Regions from separate parts of the Homo sapiens genome. Here region 2 is linked to region 1. Evidence: fine-mapped expression QTL. A gene starts in region 1. The other region holds a variant in brackets. All regions are shown on one strand. Distances are between the middles of the regions. Region 1 holds the start of TACC1 (transforming acidic coiled-coil containing protein 1). Region 2 overlaps TACC1 (transforming acidic coiled-coil containing protein 1).

Region 1 (9,487 bases):
TAATCCCAGCACTTTGGGAGGCCAAGGCGGGCGGATCACGAGGTCAGGAGATCGAGACCATCCTGGCTAACACGGTGAAACCCCGTCTCTACTAAAAATACAAAAAATTAGCTGGGCGTAGTGGTGGGCGCCTGTGGTCCTAGCTACTTGGGAGGCTGAGGCAGAAGAATGGCGTGAACCCAGGAGGCGGAGCTTGCAGTGAGCCGAGATCGCACCACTGCATTTCAGCCAGGGCAACAGAGCGAGACTCTATCTCAAAAAACAAAACAAAACAAAAAATTAGCCAGGCATGGTAGTGTGTGCCTATAGTCCCAGCTACTCAGGAGGCTGAGGCAGGAGGATCATCTGAGCCCAGGAGTTGGAGGCTGCAGTAAGCTATGATCATACTACTGCACTCCAGTCTAGACATAGATCCTGTCTCAAAGCAAAACAAAACAGAGGATGAACTTGAGATTGTACCTCCTCAAAAGTCCATTCCTAGAGGATGTTTCTTCACCAATATATTTCCCAGCAAAGAGAAAGACCACCACAACAGCAGCAGCATTAAACAACTTTAGTGGGAGAAAACAGACAGATAGCAAATACAGACCAGCCCAAGCTTTACAGCTACCAGTCTGGTTATTTCCAGGAAATATCTTTAGCTAGAGTTTTATTTTACCAGTAAGCCTAAAACCTGCTTCTATATGTGGCTTCAAAAAAAATCTACAACCTTATCCGCCACTTAACTCCTGGCATACAACTCTTAGGAAGAGTCATTATAGAGTTTAGATACTGCAAGTTCCTAAAGCAGTTCCAGTATAAGAAAAGTCATTTCAAAATAGTCTTAGATGTTTCCCTGAGTTCAAAGAACTATACAGAAGTCAGCACAGGAGCCATGGGTATGGTAAATGTAGCCCACACGTTTGAGGGCCATTATGTACCAGGAAGCCAGAATGTTTACATATTTCAACTCCAACTCCTGACTAACTCCTCGTAAATCATTCTTCCAGAATGATTTAGTCTTATATAATTTATAACTGCGGTCCAACCATGTCTTGGAACCACAAAAGTATGAAAGACTATCTTTACCAGGAACAAAACAATCAATAATTTTGGGAGAAAGGGAACTTATCCAGTCCCAGAAATTAAACTTCAATATGAAATGACTCTGAAGGGCTTTCTGCCCACTGAAATCCTCTCCAGGCAGACCTGTGCTCTGGCTGTCTTTGCACATTTGCTGTGTATGTGTGACAAGGCCATTGGCGGTACTCTGGACTAGCTCCGGATGTTGCACCCAAGGACCCTGGAAGTCAGGGTACGACCAGGTTGATGAGCAATCATCCTATTGTTTAAAGACCCTAAACTGAAAGCCTTCATAATATGCAGGGTTGTTTCCTGGACTGGACACTCCTCTACCCCTACAATTACAGTCTGCATTCATGAACTACCCCATAGAGCCTTCATGATCCATAAACATTTAAAAGTTTTCCTTTTAGAGAGAATGAAAAAAATGTGAGAGTCACTGGTACAGGAAGGACCAAACAATTGGGTCTCTGTGGTTTTGGGGGCCTAGGTCATCCAGGCCTCTATTCAATTGGCAAAGAATCTGGCGGGATGAATCAGTCTAGCAGCTGACAAAACGATGAGGAAGGGCCGCCCAAGCTGATGGCAATTCAAAAAGGCTTTCAAACAGCTCCTTAACATGTGTCTTATGAGCTTTATTTAAATTTGATGGAAAGGCCACCAAATAGTTCTTTCAAGCTTCAAAATCTCCCTTCTGATCTGCCAATCTTTACGGAAGAAAAGGGAAGCTATGAGGAATAAGTGTTATCTTCATCACTGAGAGTGCTACACAGCTATGCGTCGCACACAAATTCTCCAGTATATAAGCTTGCCTATTCCCATGTTGTCCCTGCCTAGAACAATGGCAAAATGCAGCCTAGGGCAAGTTGAGGGTATTGCTGAATTCTCAGCTGGGTAAGCACAGCATGGAGCTATCAATTTAAAGCAAAACCAAATCAGCTTTTTGCTGATGTCATTTTACCAATAATTCCAGCTCCATCATGCAGTCTATTACCAGAGTAACTTGACTTCCCTAGGCAACCTACGAAGAAGTTGCTAAGCAATAAAAATACTTATTAGGGAGAGGAGAAAGTCACAATCAGCACAAAGTTTAGGTAGCTAGATAACTGAAAGCTGGCGCTGCCACTTCAGGGTGACAGTGCCAGATACTGGAACAGAGAAACCACATAAAAAGGACTTCCATCCTAGAGTCCCTTCTCCACACAGCAGCCCAGGGAGCCTTTTACAAAAGAAGCTGAATCACAATCCCTCTGTTCAAAGCTCTCTGTTGTGGGCTGAATTATGTCTCTCAAAATGATATGTTAAAGTCCCAACTCCTAGTACCTATGAATGTGACCTTATCTAGAAATAGTATCTCTGAAGATGTTACCAAGTTAAGATGAGGTCAAACTGGATTAGGGTGGGCCCTAACTTCAACGACTGGTGTCCTCACAGGAAGGGCACGGTAAGACAGATACATAGGGAGAAGATGGCCATGTGTTGAGACAGAGACTGGAGTTCTGCTGCCACAAGCCAAAGAACACAAAGGATTGCAGACACCCAGCAGAGGCTAGAAGAGGCAAGGACAGACTTCCTGGAGCCTTCAGAAGAGCAAGGCCCTGCCAACACCTTGACTTGAGACTTCTGGTTCTGATTTCAATTATCCAGGACTGTGAGAGAATAATTTCTGTTATTGTAAGCCGCTAAGTTACTCTGTTATGGCAGCCCTTGGAAATGCATATGCCCTCCAGTGGCTTTCCACCTTACTGAAAACCAAATCCTCACTGCAGCAGCATCTGGACCTCCTCTGACCACGCTGACTTCAGCTCCTCCTGCTCTCTGAGTAGTCAGTCCACACTGACCTCCTGGCTGGTCCTCAAACTGTACCATGAACCCTCCACCTTACGGCCTCCCTGCAGCAGGCTGGTGCTGTCAGACCTTTGCAGATGCCACTCCTTCTGCTGGAAGGGTTCCCACCTCAGGAACCTCCAAGGCCTGCTCCCTCAATCTGCCTTCAGGTCTCTGTTCAAGTCACCTAATCATGAATGCCCCCACTAACTCCCCTTCAGCCTTCCCTATCCCCACTCCATATTCCCTATTCTCTTCCCCTGCTTTATTTTTCTCCACAGTGCTTCACACAAGCTGACATAGATATTTTGCTTAACCCTTCACAGGTTCTCCCTCCACAATGTTAGCTCGAGAGAGCAGGACTTCACTGCTGAATCACAGTGCACTCTATTTAGTAAATAAGCATATGAATTCTGTTGGGATAGGTGAAATTTTATTCTGAACTGGCTGTGTGACAAAAAAGGTTTCTACTAATTAAGTGAGACAACGGAAGCTCCTGCAGATGAAGGGCTGGGCTCTGAGGGGCTGGGAGGGAATCCATGTGCCAGGTTTTCCTAAGTAGACTGAAGGGCTCTCACCACATCCCTGCATGGAAGTGGGCGAGGTGAGTGATTCCGAAAAAGCCTCTTAAGAACCTCCCTATCAAAAATTAAGTCAAGTCTTACCTGTAATTTTTGTCTCCAGCCACACCCCAGTAGAAAGCAACTTAGCCTGAGGAATTTGTGAAGTCAAATATAAACATGATCTTCCTACTTCATTACTATACATATTTTTTTAGGGGCTGAGGAGAAAGGCCTAGTAGGAATGTTTGATAATGATAATCTTATACTGCAAATGCACAAACTCTACTCAGAGGAGAAAGCCTCGATCACCACACCCCTAAAAATACATAAGCCAGGAGGTTTCAAACAGCTCTTTCTTAGTCAAACTCTCTTAAATGGTCCTAAATTTACACTTTTTTCCTTCCTTCATTGATATTTTTCAAAACTTTTGAAACAAAACAGGCAGGAAAAATGCAAGTTTTTCTTTACCTTGGCTTTTGGCCCCAGGTCCTGCCAATCCGAGTGATGGATCACAGGACTCCTTGAAAGGTGATCGGATCGGGGTTTCAGCTTCAGGAGTCTCAAAATTACCTTCAGAATCCGAGCTGCCAAGGAGGAAAAATGAGGAATTACCACTTTCAACGGTATTTCCGACACCCTTTGAAATCTACATATTCACAGAGGCTAAAAGTCCAGCACTTTTGTCTAACTTCACAACCAACCGGTCCTCAGCAGGGTCTGACCTGCGGGAGGCAACTGCGGTCTCTGAGCAGTGCCCTCCTTGGGTTTCTCAGGCTGGCATCCTGTCTCTCTGAAAGCTCCTCCATTCCCTGGAGCTTTTCTCCAGCACCATTTATTTTCGAGGTCATCCTTCCCTCAGACACCTGAAAAATGCGCTTTTCCAACAGACTCCTTTTGTCACAAGAGCCCTTTCCCAGAGGCTTTAACAATTAATACTGGTCCCACCCCCGAGTTAGGCCGATGCTAGGCATTCCTCTTTGCTCGGTAGGCCTCTACCTGCTGGAACTCCCTGGGCCCGAGGCTAAGAATGGTGTCACCTGCCTTCCGCAATCACGCGGATGACAGCCCGGCAGAGACCACCATTTCCCAGCAGCTGCCAGGGGCCTGTCATCACGCGACCTTCTTCACCGCGGCTGCGTTTTGGGTACACGGTAGGGCCCCGGGAAGGGCCGGGGAGCGACTTCTTCCCCACGGGGGGGCCCTAAGTTGCACTGGGTTAGATCAGTGACGTTGCTCCAGTGTGGAGGGGCGGGGGCTGGGGGTCGAAGCTTAGAGAAAGTGACCGAGGCCAGCGGGGATGCGGAGAGACTGCAGATTCTGGGTTGGGTGCGGAACTCTCCTAGCGAAACGGGGGCCAGAAACCCCACGGGAGGACAGAAGATCCTGAACTTTCGGACGCACACGGGGACCCGGCTCCGGGCAGGGACGCGGCACGGCCGTGAGGACGGTTTCGCGGGTGGCGACCACACACACGCACACAGAGGGAGTCGCAGATGGATGGAGGCAAGCGCGTCTGCATCTCAGCGGGGACGCCGTGTACTTGCCTGAAACTCAAGGATTTGGTCTCGGCTTGCGAATCCTCCTCCTCGGGGTCGCCCTCGGGCCCGCCAGCCTCGTCCTCGCCGGCGGCCCCGCCGCGTACCGCAGACCACGTCCATTTCGCCCACTGCACGGGGGACAGGATCTGCCACGGGCTGAACGCCATGAGCGCGGCTCCTCCGGCTCCAGCTCCTAGGGGCAGGGGAATGGGTGGGGAGAGCCTTTTTCCCTTTCAAAATGGAGGGAACCGGTGACAGGCGCCAGCAAGCGTTTCCAGCAGAGGCGCGGATGTGGTTAAACGAGTGCCGTCGGGGGCCCTGGTGGAGCGCTTCCTCCCGCCGGCAGCCGGCGCTGCGTCCTCCTCGGCCTCCTCCCCTCACGGTGCGGCCGCAGCGGGCCCCGCGCCGGGCTCCACTAGCCGGGAAGACGCCCGTCCTGTGGCCTCCTCAGGCCCCCGGCCCGCGGCGCCCGGCTGCTAGACCTCTGCTGCTCCCGCTCCCGGCTCGCGGACTCCCGCCTCCCGGCCGGCGGGGCGCGCATCAGCTGCCGCCGGAGCCGCGCCCCAGAAGCCGCCCCCTCGGACCGTACTACTCGCGCGCGCGCGCGGGGGCGGCGGCGGCGCCGGGGCTTTGAAGACGGCCGCGCGCCCGCCGGATCCCCCTACCGCGGCGTCACGCTGGTCGCGGCCCGACTGAGGGCCGGGGCTTGCCGGCTGCGCGGGGAGATTCGGTCATACCCCACAGGTCCGCCGGCGTCCGGGGCAGAGGAGGACCGTTTTCTGAGCCGGGGCACGCTGTCCTCTTCCTCTTTCCTTATTCCTTTTTAAAATTTTTTTAAACATTTTCATCTTGCCACTGTGACTTCACGGCGATGGTGATATTGGACTGCACACAAGCCCCTTGTTACCAAAAAAAAAAAAATACAAACCTTCGCGGCCGCTGTGGACTGTTGTTTTCCCCTCCCTAACCCTGGCAGCGTGGGGGATTTCAGCCTGTTCATCTCCATCCCTGGCATTCCCGGGATTTGAAAATCCCTTGGCAAAGCCACAAGAGTGACCGAGGACTGGAATTTAAGATGCCCTCCCCCTCCCCAAACCGCACTCGGGGAGGCTTCCCAAGTGCCCAGGTCTTGTCTTAGGTAAAGGGTACTAAATTCCCTGTGAGATTACAGCCTGATGGGTTTCCCATTCTCCATATTTATTTATTTAAAATACAGACAGGCGTCTCGATATGTTGCCCAGGCTGGTCTTGAACTCTTGGCCACAAGCGATCCTCCCGCCTCTGCCTCCCAAAATGCTAGGATTCCAGGCCTGACACCGCGCCTGACCCCATTCTCCTTTTTGAGATTTTCTTTTCGTAACTTCTAAGTCTTTGATTTCTGACTTATTTCGCTGCTTCAGTAACAAGCCAAGAGGCCTGGCGACATCTTTAGGTTTGAAGGCAATGGGAAATAGCTGATGTTCTCCATTTCCCATGGAGGGATTTCATGTAGGGATTGTTCCTCTCAAAACCACCAAAGCACCTTCTTCCAAGTGAATCGATTGCCTCAAACACCAGGCTTAATGATCTCCTTGCCTGGATAAGGTGTTCCAGGTGGTACTGTAATTTCCGAGTTGTGGTGCATCCATGAGGTGCCTGCAGGTTCCCACAGAGACAGCAGCTCCAAAATGTGCACGTTGAAACTTGCAAGAGACTAACCGTTGCCTCTGAAAGCAGTTGGCATGTATATTCATCGTGACTGTTTTACACATTTGATAACAAAAACAGGAGCAAAATACAAGATAAGGCTTGGCAGGGTAGTTTTACCAAAACCGAAGGGCAGGAGTTAACCTGAAGTCTAGAGAAAAGAAAGGGGTGGGGTGTCAGGATGCTTTCGAATTCATCCTGGCTTCTTCCCAGAAATAAATTGTCATGAGTGTTCTAGCGACTATAAAGAAGTGAACTAGGCAGGAGGTCCATGTGAAATATATCACACCACTTATCCAACTGTTGTAGTTTTAGGTTTATGCTTACCCAGTAAAACTTCAGGTTCTACAGTCCCCCAGGCTCCTGGATTTGACACAGGGTTCTGTTTCTGGGAAATAATATTACCCCAGCAAATCAGTAACTAGCATACACTAGGACCTGTTCTTCCTCCTGAATAGTTCTCTTATCTTTTCATTCCTTTGCATCCCTGTGGTGACTGACATAGTTCCCGCACTCCCCATCTTTCATGATCTACTGTAAATAACTCCCACCTGGTTTTACCTCTGAAGGTTTTCTTGCCTGAGGTCACCCCTGCCTGGCTGATCAGTGACTCGTGCTCTAATCTTTCGGTTCCCATTCCCCTCTATGCCCATCCTTTTGTATTCCTAGCCACAGTGAGTAGAGAACTCGTTGTCAATCTTTAATATGCCCAAGAATCATCCGCCAGCCTTCTTAAAAAAATCCAAATTGCCAGCAGAGTCTGGAAATCTGTGTGTTCACTAAGTGTCCTGGGGAACTGTTATCACAGGGTAAATTTGGGAAACAGTGCCTAGCTTGAACCAACTGCTTACTGCTTCGGGAACAGTCTCCCTTTGCCTGCAGAGGGAGCTTTGCGAATTCCTGGAACACACCTCCTCCCCCACCCCAGCCCACCCCAAGTTCCCAGGCTTCAGCTGCTCGAACGTCCTTCAGCACTTAGCTCAAGTGTCTACAGGGGGAAGCAGGCTCATTGTCCTTCCTTTCTATCATTTCTATACCCCGAACATCCATAAAGAACACTTCCTGTGGCCTTAGATCTGAAAGTGAAAGACAGCATTCTTAATAGTTACACAGGGACTATAGGCATAAACCAGGACTGTCTCCAGAAGACCAGGATGTAAGGCCATTCTACACTTAGCACACCATATATAACATATTTATTTACATATCTGTCCCACAAGCTTCTAAAGGGACTTTACCCCCCTTTGGGACTTCCTCCAGAAATTAGGACAGAACCACACACTCAGTAGGTGTTCAATATATATGTAAGAAAAAACAAACATTCTAGTTTACAAATAGTCCTTGTGAGTTTGGCTAAGGTGACATAAATTCCTAAAGCCTGACTCCCCCTGGGGAAATCTAGTTTCTGGGCCAGAAAATAACAGAACCCAGGACCAAGTGATGGCCCCAGTAAGATTAAGCCTCACCTATGCAGCAATTTACTTTTTTTTTTTTTTGAGATGGAGTCTCACTCTGTCACCCAGGCTGGAGCACGGTGGTGCAGTCTCAGCTGACTGCAACCTCCGCCTCCTGGGTTCAAGCGATTCTCCCTGCCTCAGCCTCCCAAGTAGCTGGGATTACAGGTTCCTGCCACCATGCCCAGCTAATTTTTTTATTTTTTAGTAGAGACGGGGTTTCATCATGTTGGCCAGGCTGGTCTTGAACTCCTGACCTCAGGTGATCCACCCACTTCCAAAGTTCTGGGATTATAGGTGTGAGCCACCGCACCCGGCCTGCAGCAACTTCTTGAGACTGGACTAGCAAATAAATGCCTAAGGTTTCTGAAAATCACTCCTCTGCAAGTTCTTGAACTTAGTGTAAGCAGTAATGAATATGAGTCCATTAGCTGGACCACTCCTCTCAGTCTGCTGCTCCTAGTCCTGGCTTCGTTCTTACCTGGTACAGGTTGCAAAGTCACAACTAGGAACACTCTAGCCCTGTCAGTGAAGACGTGCCATTGCCAACAGGAGGCTGTGGCCACCCTATCTGCTTTTCTGCCCTACCTCAGTCTAACCAGGCAAGGGCATGATGATGTCTAATCAAGACAACATTGCCAATAACAGCATCTGACCGCATTCAAATATGTTAACATGACAGTCTTAACCTTGCAAGATCAGATATTTACCTAATTATCCTTTACCTGTAGACTACAAACATCTATAGAATTACAATCTTCCCTCCACTACCCAAACACCGAAATCAGGACTGTGTACAATGCATTTATACAGAAAATTATAAAGAGAAGCTCCTTTCTAATTTTTTAAAAGAGAGGTGTCAGGGTATGTTCATAGCTAATACTCTTTCAGGCTGGGTGCGGTGGCTCATGCCTGCAATCCCACACTTTGGGAGGCCAAGGCAGGCAGATCACTTAAGGTCAGGAGTATGAGACCAGCCTGGCCAACATGGTGAAACTCCATCTCTACTAAGAATATAAAAATAGCCAGGTGTGGTGGCAGGCGCCTGTAATTCCAGCTACTCGGGAGGCTGAGGCAGGAGAATCACTTGAACCGGGGAGGCAGAGATTGCGGTGAGCCGAGATCATGCCACTGTACTTCAGCCTGGGCAACAGAGTGAGACTCCATCTCAAAAAAAAAAAAAAGAAAATACTCTTTCAGAGTTCCAGGAAGATTAACAAAGATCCAAACTGCATTTATTAAAGACTTGGCTGAGCCCCCCACCTGGGGTCTGCTGAAAGACCCTTGCCCAGACTTTGCTCTGGTGAACAACTCTTGTCATATCCACCCATTGATCTGTTTTCTTCTGTATCACAGA
Region 2 (9,487 bases), 41 kb before region 1:
TCCCTCTTTTCCGCTTATCACTAGAGACAGAAACTAAAAACTATGGCTTCAGGCTGCTAAAAGCCTAAAACAAAACCAATCAGAACAACAACAACAAAATTAAGCAAGTTGGACAAGCTTGTTATAGAATCTACCATCACAGAGAATTGGCCAGAAGATCTGTTTTAGGCCTGGGCCATCTAATATGTCTTTAATGAAGACGCTAAATCAATCAATCATATCCTTCCAAAAGGGCTTTATTTCATGTTTGCCAGTGCTTCTCCCAGTCCCTCAAAACATTCACAATTGAGGACCAACAAAGACCAGTCTATAGACAACAGAACTCAATGGACTCCCGGTTGCAAATTTACAGTGAGCACAGATGCCACTGATTCCCGTGGCTGTGGAGAATTCGCATCACTAATCTGTGGCAGTGTGCTGACTGTGCTCATTTGTCCTCAATCACAAGAGAGCAGTATCAGCCCCTGCCGTACTCTAACAGAGACGTGCCCAAAAAAGCCAAATGAACTCACCTTTTAAAACATTTAAAACTTAAAAAGAAAAGTTAACTTCTTACGTGAAAAATGCTGTGGAACAACAGCTGAAAAGCAAGGAGAGACTGACTCCTACCACTGATTGTACTCTGGCCTTAGTCCAGCCACCACCTACTGCTGGGCACAAGACCACATAAGAATGGACTTCAGAGCAACACAGATAAACTTAAAAAGTGAATGATGGATTAAATAGATGATTTTTTCATTCAATGTTTTGCATGGTGAAATTTCTTTATACAATGTTTATTCAATGTTCTAAGGAAGCAGAAATTAATTTATGTTGGGAAGTTCAAAAGGAGTTGCTTTTAAAAGGTCACAGCATATGATATGTTCCTCACCAGCTGGCTTCAGAGACAGTGTTTGCCATTTTTCTTTTTCACTCTCTTCCTTTCCACTCTCTTTTCCACGTGTTTCCTATCAACACCACACCAGTGTATTCTAACACAACAGTGTATTCTAGCACACTAGTGTATTCTAGCACTTTACAGCTTAAATCTTTCACGTTGTCATTTCATCTTATCCTTACAACCACTTTGATAAGGCAGATGGGTGCTACTCATTTTATGGATGAATCAGTTGGGAATTAGGAAGTTTAAAGTTTAAGAACTGAGTAAATGGGCTGGGCGCAGTGGCTCATGCCTGTAATCCCAGCACTTCAGGAGGCCAAGGCAGGTGGATCACCTGAGGTCAGGAGTTTGAGACCAGCTTGGCCAACATGGTGAAACCCCATCTCTACTAATAATACAAAAATTAGCTGGGCGTGGTGGCGCATGCCTGTAATCCCAGCTACTGAGGAGGCTGAGGGAGGAGAACTGCTTGAACCCAGTAGGTGGAGGTTGTAGTGAGCCGAGATTGCGTCACTGTACTCCAACCTGGGTGACAAGAGTGAAACTCTGTCTCAAAAAAAAAAAAAAGAACTGAGTAAACCAGCCAGGTGCAGGGGCTCATGCCTGTAATCCCAGCACTTTGGGAGGCGGAGGTGGGCAGATTGCTTGAGCCCAGGAGTTTGAGACCAGCCTAGGTAACATGGCAAGACCCCATTTCTGCAAAAAATACAAAAACTAGCTGGGTGCGGTGGCACGTGCCTCTAGTTCCAGCTACTTGGGAGGCTGTGGTAGAAGGATCACTTGAGCCCAGGAGGTGAAGGTTGCAGTTAGCCAAGATTGCACCACTGTACTCCAGCCTGGGGAACAGAGTGAGACTGTCTCAAATAATAATAATAATAACAACAATAATAATGATAATAATAAACCTTAGTTAACCCAAGACATCCAAAATATTATCATCTCAACATGTAGTTAATATAAAAAGTTGAGACATTTATGCTTCTTCTTTTTCTGAGTAGCTACAGTTCAAGTGCTCCACAGCTACCTGCGGCTAGGGTTACAATGCAGAGACTATGTGTTCCTCAAGTGAAGAAACTATCTCATTTACATTTTATCCTCATCACCTAACACTGACCAGAATTTAACAAATTCACATGGGCTTCAAAACAAATACTGAAAGAAACCTGAGTCCACCCGGCCCTCCACATTCAGGAACTTACAAGCACAGTGGACCCGTCTTCTTCCATCTTCTGGCACGTCTCCTTCTCTATGCCTAAGACAGAAAGTCATTTTTATAGTTATCCCAAGAAGTCGGTTCCTTTCCTCCCTAGTGAAAGGCTCTTGGAAACCCCAGTGCAGGCGAGAATGACTTATGAACACATGAAAAGCATTTTAAGATTTTATTTAAAAGGAGCGCTGGCATTTTGTTGAGTGCTGTTATAAGTCCATGACATTCAGAAGAGGAGCACATGGTTAGTCAGCCACAAACAGGTCGTCAGCCTTCAGGCTGAAAGAACAGCAAGGCTGCCCCCTTGTGTCCATTAAAAGTTTGGAAAAATGTGTCGTACTAACTGTGGCATTATTTCAGAAAGGGGACACTGTGTAACACTGAATGCTTTTTTTTAATCATCAAGTCGGAGTGAATTTAAATTCCAGCCCAGAAGGGTGGCCTTGATCTAATTAATGCAGCAGATAAGATAATAAGCTTTAAAATTCAAGGCAGCGAAACTAAACTCATTCTCCCCTCCACCCCTTCAAATGGGCTTCCTTGTCTCAGGTCTATCCTCTACTCTACTAGGGTAGAGGATGACATTTAAAATAACCAGAAGATGGCTGGGCACAGTGGCTCATGCCTGTAATCCCAGCACTTTGGGAGGCCAAGGTGGGTGGATCATCTGAGGTCAGGAGACCAGCCTAGCCAACATGGCGAAGCCTCATCTACTAAAAATACAAAAATTAGCTGGGCGTGGTGGCGCATGCCTATAATCTCAGCTACTTGGGAGGCTGAAGCAGGAGAATCGCTTGAACCCGGGAGCTGGAGGTTGCAGTGAGTTGAGATAGCGCCACCACACTCCAGCCTGGGCAACAAGAGCGAAACTCAGTCTCAAAAATAAGAAAAATAAAAAATAAAATAACCAGAAGATGCACTCATTAAAGTAAACATAAAAATACAGAAAAGCATACAAAAGTTTAAAGTTACAATCCTCCACATGGCAATCACTAACTACTATTGTTGTCAATAGCTAATTATTTAAAACACAAATGTGACCATCACTCCCTTATTCAAAAACCTTCAACCTCCCCCTCCCTACCTATAGGATCAAGCCCAGATTCCACGGTATGACCTTGTTTCCCACTTGGCCAGATACTTACAGAAAGCAACCAGGCCTTTTACCAACGTGGCAGCTTTCTTCCCATGGCTGTGTGAAAATCTCATTTCCTGGAGAACATCTAGTAAGTATCCATCAGGACCCAGCTTCAAGGGGACACTCACCAGGACACAGTCAGGATTCACCTAACAGGGCCTGTAGCCATTCCCACACCCAGGACCGCAGCCTCCACTTGCTTGTGATGCGGCTGATCAGTTACAATGTAACCACTTGTTTAAATATGTTCCCCTTGCTGTTTGCTAACTTTGAAGACAGCACTGTATGTACAGGGCCCCAGCTCTCTACATAAATTTTTATTGAAGGAATTTCCTCTAGTGAGGAAGAATATAATTCAATAAATGTTTACCATGTACTGTGTCAAAGGTGACTCAAAGATGAGTGGTAGTCTCTAACCTCAGTAAGTTTATAATATTACCTTCCTGTAATTAACACACTGCGCTAGGTACTGTGGAACAGGAAGGGGGAAAGGAAATGTGGGAGCAAAAGCATGCTGGAGAGACCTGAAGGGATGTGCAGATCTGTGTAAGAGGCAGCAAAGGAAGACACTTCAGATGGAAAAAAACCAAGGCAGGTGTTAAGAATACTCAGGATTAACCCCAAGAAACTGGGGGAATGGTGAACAATATCTTTGGGAAAGATGTCAGGGCAGAAGACAGTATTGGAAGAAATCAGGAACAATGCCTGGCATATTATTTTATAGATGAGAGACTGAGGCCTGGGATGAGAAGGAGGCCAGGGGGAATAAATTGCTCCAAGTCCTGACTTTCCATCTGCTTCCCTGGCTTAATGGCAGATCATGACTTTTAAAATTCTATACATAAAAGCCCATGAATAAAATTATGTTAAGAAGATCTGAGTTTTTAATAATGTTTAATGTAGTCAGGAACATGGTTCTAAACTTTTCATAAGTAAAGTTTAAGGCCAAGGATGTAACTGGGGTCCCAAGAAAGAGGGGCTTAGCTCTAGAATGATCTGATGAGTCCATCAATAAGAGGCTTCCACCCTGGTTAGCCCAGGTTCCTCATTGGCATGTTAAGAAAGATTTTACAGTGCACTGGTCAATCTCAACTTACCACATCTGTACCAGGAAAATTTACAGTAGCCTAGTATCATGAAAATAATCTCTTCATACTTTGGCATTGTGGCGAAAAGACCATGGAACCAGACTGCTTAGAGTCAAATGTAGTTCTACCATTTACTAATGATGAGGTTCAGAACACACTTCACCAAAATATGGTGCCTTCGCATTTGAGGACACAGCAGAAGCAGGGAGGTCTCTCGGCCCCTCTCCTGCCCCCTTTCCTGAAGCAGGCCATAAAGCAACCCCTCAGACCTTCCCCTGAAAATAGTTCATAAGACCTCATTACAAGAGGGGTCCTCCCTGTACACAGAGAAAAACAATGTCCTTATCCTGAAAGACACAGACACCAAGAGGAATTGGAACAAACAGGACTTGCTAAGTTCCCCTGGTTTATTACCA[C/T]AGATCACACCCTTCTGTCCTCCAATTATACTTCTGCACAACTATCTATAAAAGTACAGTTTTCCCTGTTCCTTTGGGTCTTCATTTCTGGAGGCTCTAATGTCATGTAAAACTTATATTAAATATATTTGTACACTTTTCTCTTGTTGATCTTTTGTTAGAGATGTCTCAGCCATGAACCTTGTGGTGAGGAAAAAGATACCACTTTTCTGTCCTACCCTAGCCAAGTGACTTTAATCAAGTCACTTAACTTCTTTGACTTACTTTGTTTCTCTGAAGAAGTGAGAAAAGGGTAACACCTTGCTATGAATGAGTATATGCAAAGCACTTAAAACAATGCCTGTACATGGTAAGGCACCATACATGTCAGTTGTTATTTCTCTAAGTTAAACAATGAGTATAACAATCACAAAAAAGTCAAACATATGACATATTTATAGGCCATTTGATATAGTTTAAATATTTGCCCCCTAAATCTCATGTTGAAACCTGATCAACAGTTGGAAGTGAGGCCTAATGGGAGGTGGCTGGGTCATAGGAGCGGATCCCTCATGAATAGCTTGGTGCCCTCCTTGTGGTAATGAGCGACTTCTTGCTGTTAGTTTCTGTGAAATCTTTGTTAAAAATAGCCTGGCATCCTCCCCGCCCCCTCTTCCTCCCACCTCTCGCCATGTGACACACTTGCTCCCCCTTGCCTTCCACCATGATTGGAAGCTTCCTGAGTCCCTCACCAGAAGCAGGCACTGGTGCCATGCTTATTCTACAGTCTGCAGAACCATGAACCAAATAAACCTCTTTTTCCTATAAATTAGCCATTCTCAGGTATTCCTTTACAGCAACGCAAATGAACTAACACACCACTATACTTTAAGATATGGCCATATTCACATAAAATTATAAAGAAATTCAAGCAGTCTCACATACATCAGCATCTCCTATACAACTTGTCACAAGTATCTCTACGTTCCTAGTACTTCAATAAGCACTTTGTGTCCCTTTTCCAGGTAAAGAAGCAAAGCATAGGTCAGCATCCTAAATCTATCCTTCAAGTGACCCAATTCTTTAATCTCTGTAAGGCTCCTCCTGCTTTATTAGGCTTTCAGGCATTTCCATGCTTATGTACATTAGAAAGATGAAGATATGCTTCCATACCTGCTTCTGAGGATGAAAACGCATGATTTATGGTAGACACAGGAACATTGGAACATTCAAAGTACTCCAGGTCTTCCTCTGGCTCACCTTTCACCTCGGCACCAGCTGATTTCTGACCACATGACGTGGATGCCAGTTTCTCCTCATCAGTAGCATGGCCATCCCTATTAGAAATGTCTGAAATCTGGGAGATCACTGCCCCTTCATCCTGAGAAACACAACAGAGAAGATGCTACCCTTTAGGAGGGCAAGCAATGGGGAAAAGTGACATCCCATGAATGGAACAAAGTAGACACAACTCCATACAGATATGTGAGAGGTTAACCACAGACCTGGGTACAAAGCAAGGAGGAAGTTGGAGTCTTTCAATTGTGAGATGCTGTTTTATAGAACCTAGTTTCTGTAACTTGAGTCTGAGGTTTTAAAAAATGATCTTCTCTAGGTTAAGTTTATAAGCAAGCAGTTTCAGTGGTTTAAGACAATGGTTTTCAATTTTTTTGCTCATATACCTAATTTTTTTTTGAAAATCTATGTCCCCCATTGCATTTTCAAGTGACATCTAAAAACTTTTTGGCATAAGTTTAAATAATTGCAAAGAATGTAATATCTGGAATATTCTAAATATTGAATTTACTTAATGCTATCTAGTTACCTTAGTGATTTGATACCATATGTAAATTTAAATGAACAAGTTCCTGAATAAGTCAGAAATTTATGTTATTCCTTTTCCTCTCTAAATCTGTATTTCCATCCCACTTCCATCAAGAAACTATCCAAATGAAAAACATCTGCATGGTTGAAAGTCTTTTTAAAAGTCTCTATCCAATGTCTCTGTGAAACTTTTTTCTTTAAGTCTTAAAATTTTTTCTGCTGGAGACTTATCACATTTATTAATGCACAACTTATTTTCAAAATATTGCAAGTTTTGATAAGTATTATCAGACACAAAAGTAAGTTGTTATATCAATTACAAAATGTTTTATTGCACTAATTCTTAAAAACTTTTACAGTGCACTAAATATATGGGTTTTGGGTTTTTGTTTTTGTTTTTTAAAGAAAACCAAAGATAAATTTCTCATAGTTCTTGCTGCCTACTTTAGCAAAATCTGAGGGAGAATGTTACACATTTGTTAACAGATGAAAAATAACTCAGATTGTAAATTTCCCCCATCACACCCCTTTTTTACATCTTACACCATATACCAAGTTTCTGATCCAAATTGTAGAGGAAAAGTTATGTTAAATTGAACTCTATTAACCAATGAATGTATTTCTGTAATAAGTATACTGAGAAAGTTTTAAAAAGAACAAAAGGATCTCATTGCAATCAGATGGGCCTGGGCTTCGCTTTGTTTTGCAATTAGTTTATACGGTCATGGATGGATATTATTTATTGCTAGAATGTAACAAAGGTCAACATCAATTTTATTCCTGGTTTCTATTTTTATCAATATAATCATTAAGAAACCTTATTTATATAAACAATAGATGAAACAGAAAGTAGTTCTGTAACATAAGTGCCTTTCAATTCTTTGAACCCCTTTCCAAGTTATGTGCCCAAAAAAATCTACCATCAAACATTATTTTTAGACCTATCAGCTGACAACTCAGGTTTTCCTCTATTGTTGAAAGCAATGAATTAGAAAACCATCTGACTTAAGAAAAATACCATCCAGTTATTAGAGTCAATTATCTTATTAGAACCTACACCAGTATTTCAGATCTTCCCTTCGGTGCCCTGGAGACTTTCACACCCTGTGGTGATGCATCTTTGTAGCATTTAAAGTGGGAATTTTACCAAAAAAAAAAAAGAGTCATTGTGAAAGGGTTCCCTTGTCTTCAGGGGCCTTCTCTTCAGGGACAGTAAGGATCTGGAAATTGGCTTCTTAAAGCTGAGTACTCAGGTACCCATTGGAAAGTCCTTTTGAACCACCCGCCAGGGGGATGCAAACTCCCACTGGAGGACCCCTGGTCTCAGAGACATTCTGGAGATGGGCACAGACTCACCCGAGAACATGCATCCAGGGCGAGAGACTGAGTTTCATGCTTCTTCACCTTACAGCCACTCCTGGAAAGAGAAGAAACACAAACAAGCCAGTTTGCAATCACACTGACAATTGTCAAGGTATGAAATGGAGCAGACAGCAGTGTGTGCGGATAGAAGCCAAAGCATACAGCACCACACAAATCATACATCGCCGCAGGAGAGAGGCAGGGACACCTTTTATGCCTCTGAGTTTTCTCCAGAGAGACGGGGTAAGCAAAGACCTACAAGCGGGGCTCATTCTCTGAAAAGACCCCCTCAGCTTGCTTCTATGAGTTGTCAAACAGTAGCACTCTGATGTCTATGGTTTTTAATTACACGCCACCAAAAGCTTTGCAGACAGTAGAGCCTTAGCAGCTGGAGACATTCAGTTCCTCTGAGCCTCACTCGCTTGGCTTTGACATTCATTAGAAAAATCATCACGCTGGACCAAATTCTTTAAAAATTCTTTATTGCACTAAAAGCCATAGACGTCTCATAAAACAGTTCCAGTTAGACTTGTGTGCTCACAGAGAAGAACTGTCATCAATAAAAAGTATAAAAGTAAAAATATGTGAGTAAACTGTTACCATTCCTATTAAGTAGTAAGATGGAAGATGAATGTCACACGCTGCACAAAGCCTGAAACTGGGGAAGCTTGAACCATCTGTTATTTGTAGATTAGCACACAACTTGTGATCACAGGACTAATTCAGATTCTGTTCTAATAAACTTAGAATTTCCAGGAAAAACACCACTGTGACCAAAAAAAGAGAAAAAATTATTTGCAACTTTTTTTCTTTTGTGAGAAAAAATACAAAGACAAGCACATAAGTTACCGGAATGTGCATAATCACTAGTTCATGATCTTCTTTCCCTAATCTTCTTACTGAGTGCTACCCTCTGCCACCAAACTCAAGTTGAGCTGACTCAGTAAAATTTATTAACTGTTCCAAGCCAGTAGCTTTATGCTACCAAAAAAGCCAATGATTTCCAATATTAAATAGCAGAACAGTCCCTCAAACCACTGCTGTGATGATCTTGGGGCCAAGCCAGCTTTTGGTATTGTCAAAGCGCCACGTGACACCTGCCAAGCCAGGGAGTGCAAGCTCTAGCACCTAAGGTGTAAAGGCCAAGCCCCACTCCCTTAGGTATGGACAACTGCAAGGCTAAGCTGACTCATGAAGTGACTGATGAAATGCAAAAAAATCATCAGAAGATCAAACTCAGAATTAGAAGCAAACATGCTATGGAGAGATGGCTGGGGGAGGGGAGAGAGGAAACTGCCAACGGTCCCAGGGACTAAAGAAACAGCAGGAGTACTTACAACAGAAAACAGAGAAATTTCACTTGTTCAGTAGTCCTGATGCACCAACAAAATTAGAGACAGGAAAGAGACAGACAGATGGAGAAAAAAATCATGTAAAGACTGGAATATTCAACTCTAGTCTGGCAGATGTAAAAGCTGCACAATTCTTTCTATGAGGTGAGATACAAATTAAAAATGTCGTATTCATGAATGTTATCACCAGTGAGTGAATGATGAACAGACCTCAACTACAAAGGAGACTGGTAGAAACACT

Evidence for each region. PIP is the estimated chance that this variant, and not a neighbour inherited with it, causes the effect.
Region 2: its variant is fine-mapped to the expression of TACC1 in whole blood (INTERVAL, PIP above 0.99). The same link has a PIP of 0.9 or more in nasal epithelium.

What each region holds. Positions count from the first base shown.
Region 1 is chr8:38,783,253-38,792,739 of GRCh38, reverse strand. It overlaps TACC1 (transforming acidic coiled-coil containing protein 1), which reads right to left and starts at 5,504. Exons shown (of 13, transcript NM_006283.3): 1 at 4,997-5,504; 2 at 3,921-4,036. The coding sequence starts at 5,157. RefSeq lists a silencer at 5,241-5,780 and an enhancer at 5,821-5,900.
Region 2 is chr8:38,823,770-38,833,256 of GRCh38, reverse strand. It overlaps TACC1 (transforming acidic coiled-coil containing protein 1), which reads right to left. Exons shown (of 13, transcript NM_006283.3): 4 at 7,889-7,949; 5 at 5,882-6,089; 6 at 2,080-2,132. Among named protein-coding and RNA genes, the nearest start is that of TACC1, 41 kb to the right of the region's middle. The variant C/T (reference allele first, on the strand shown) is at 4,730.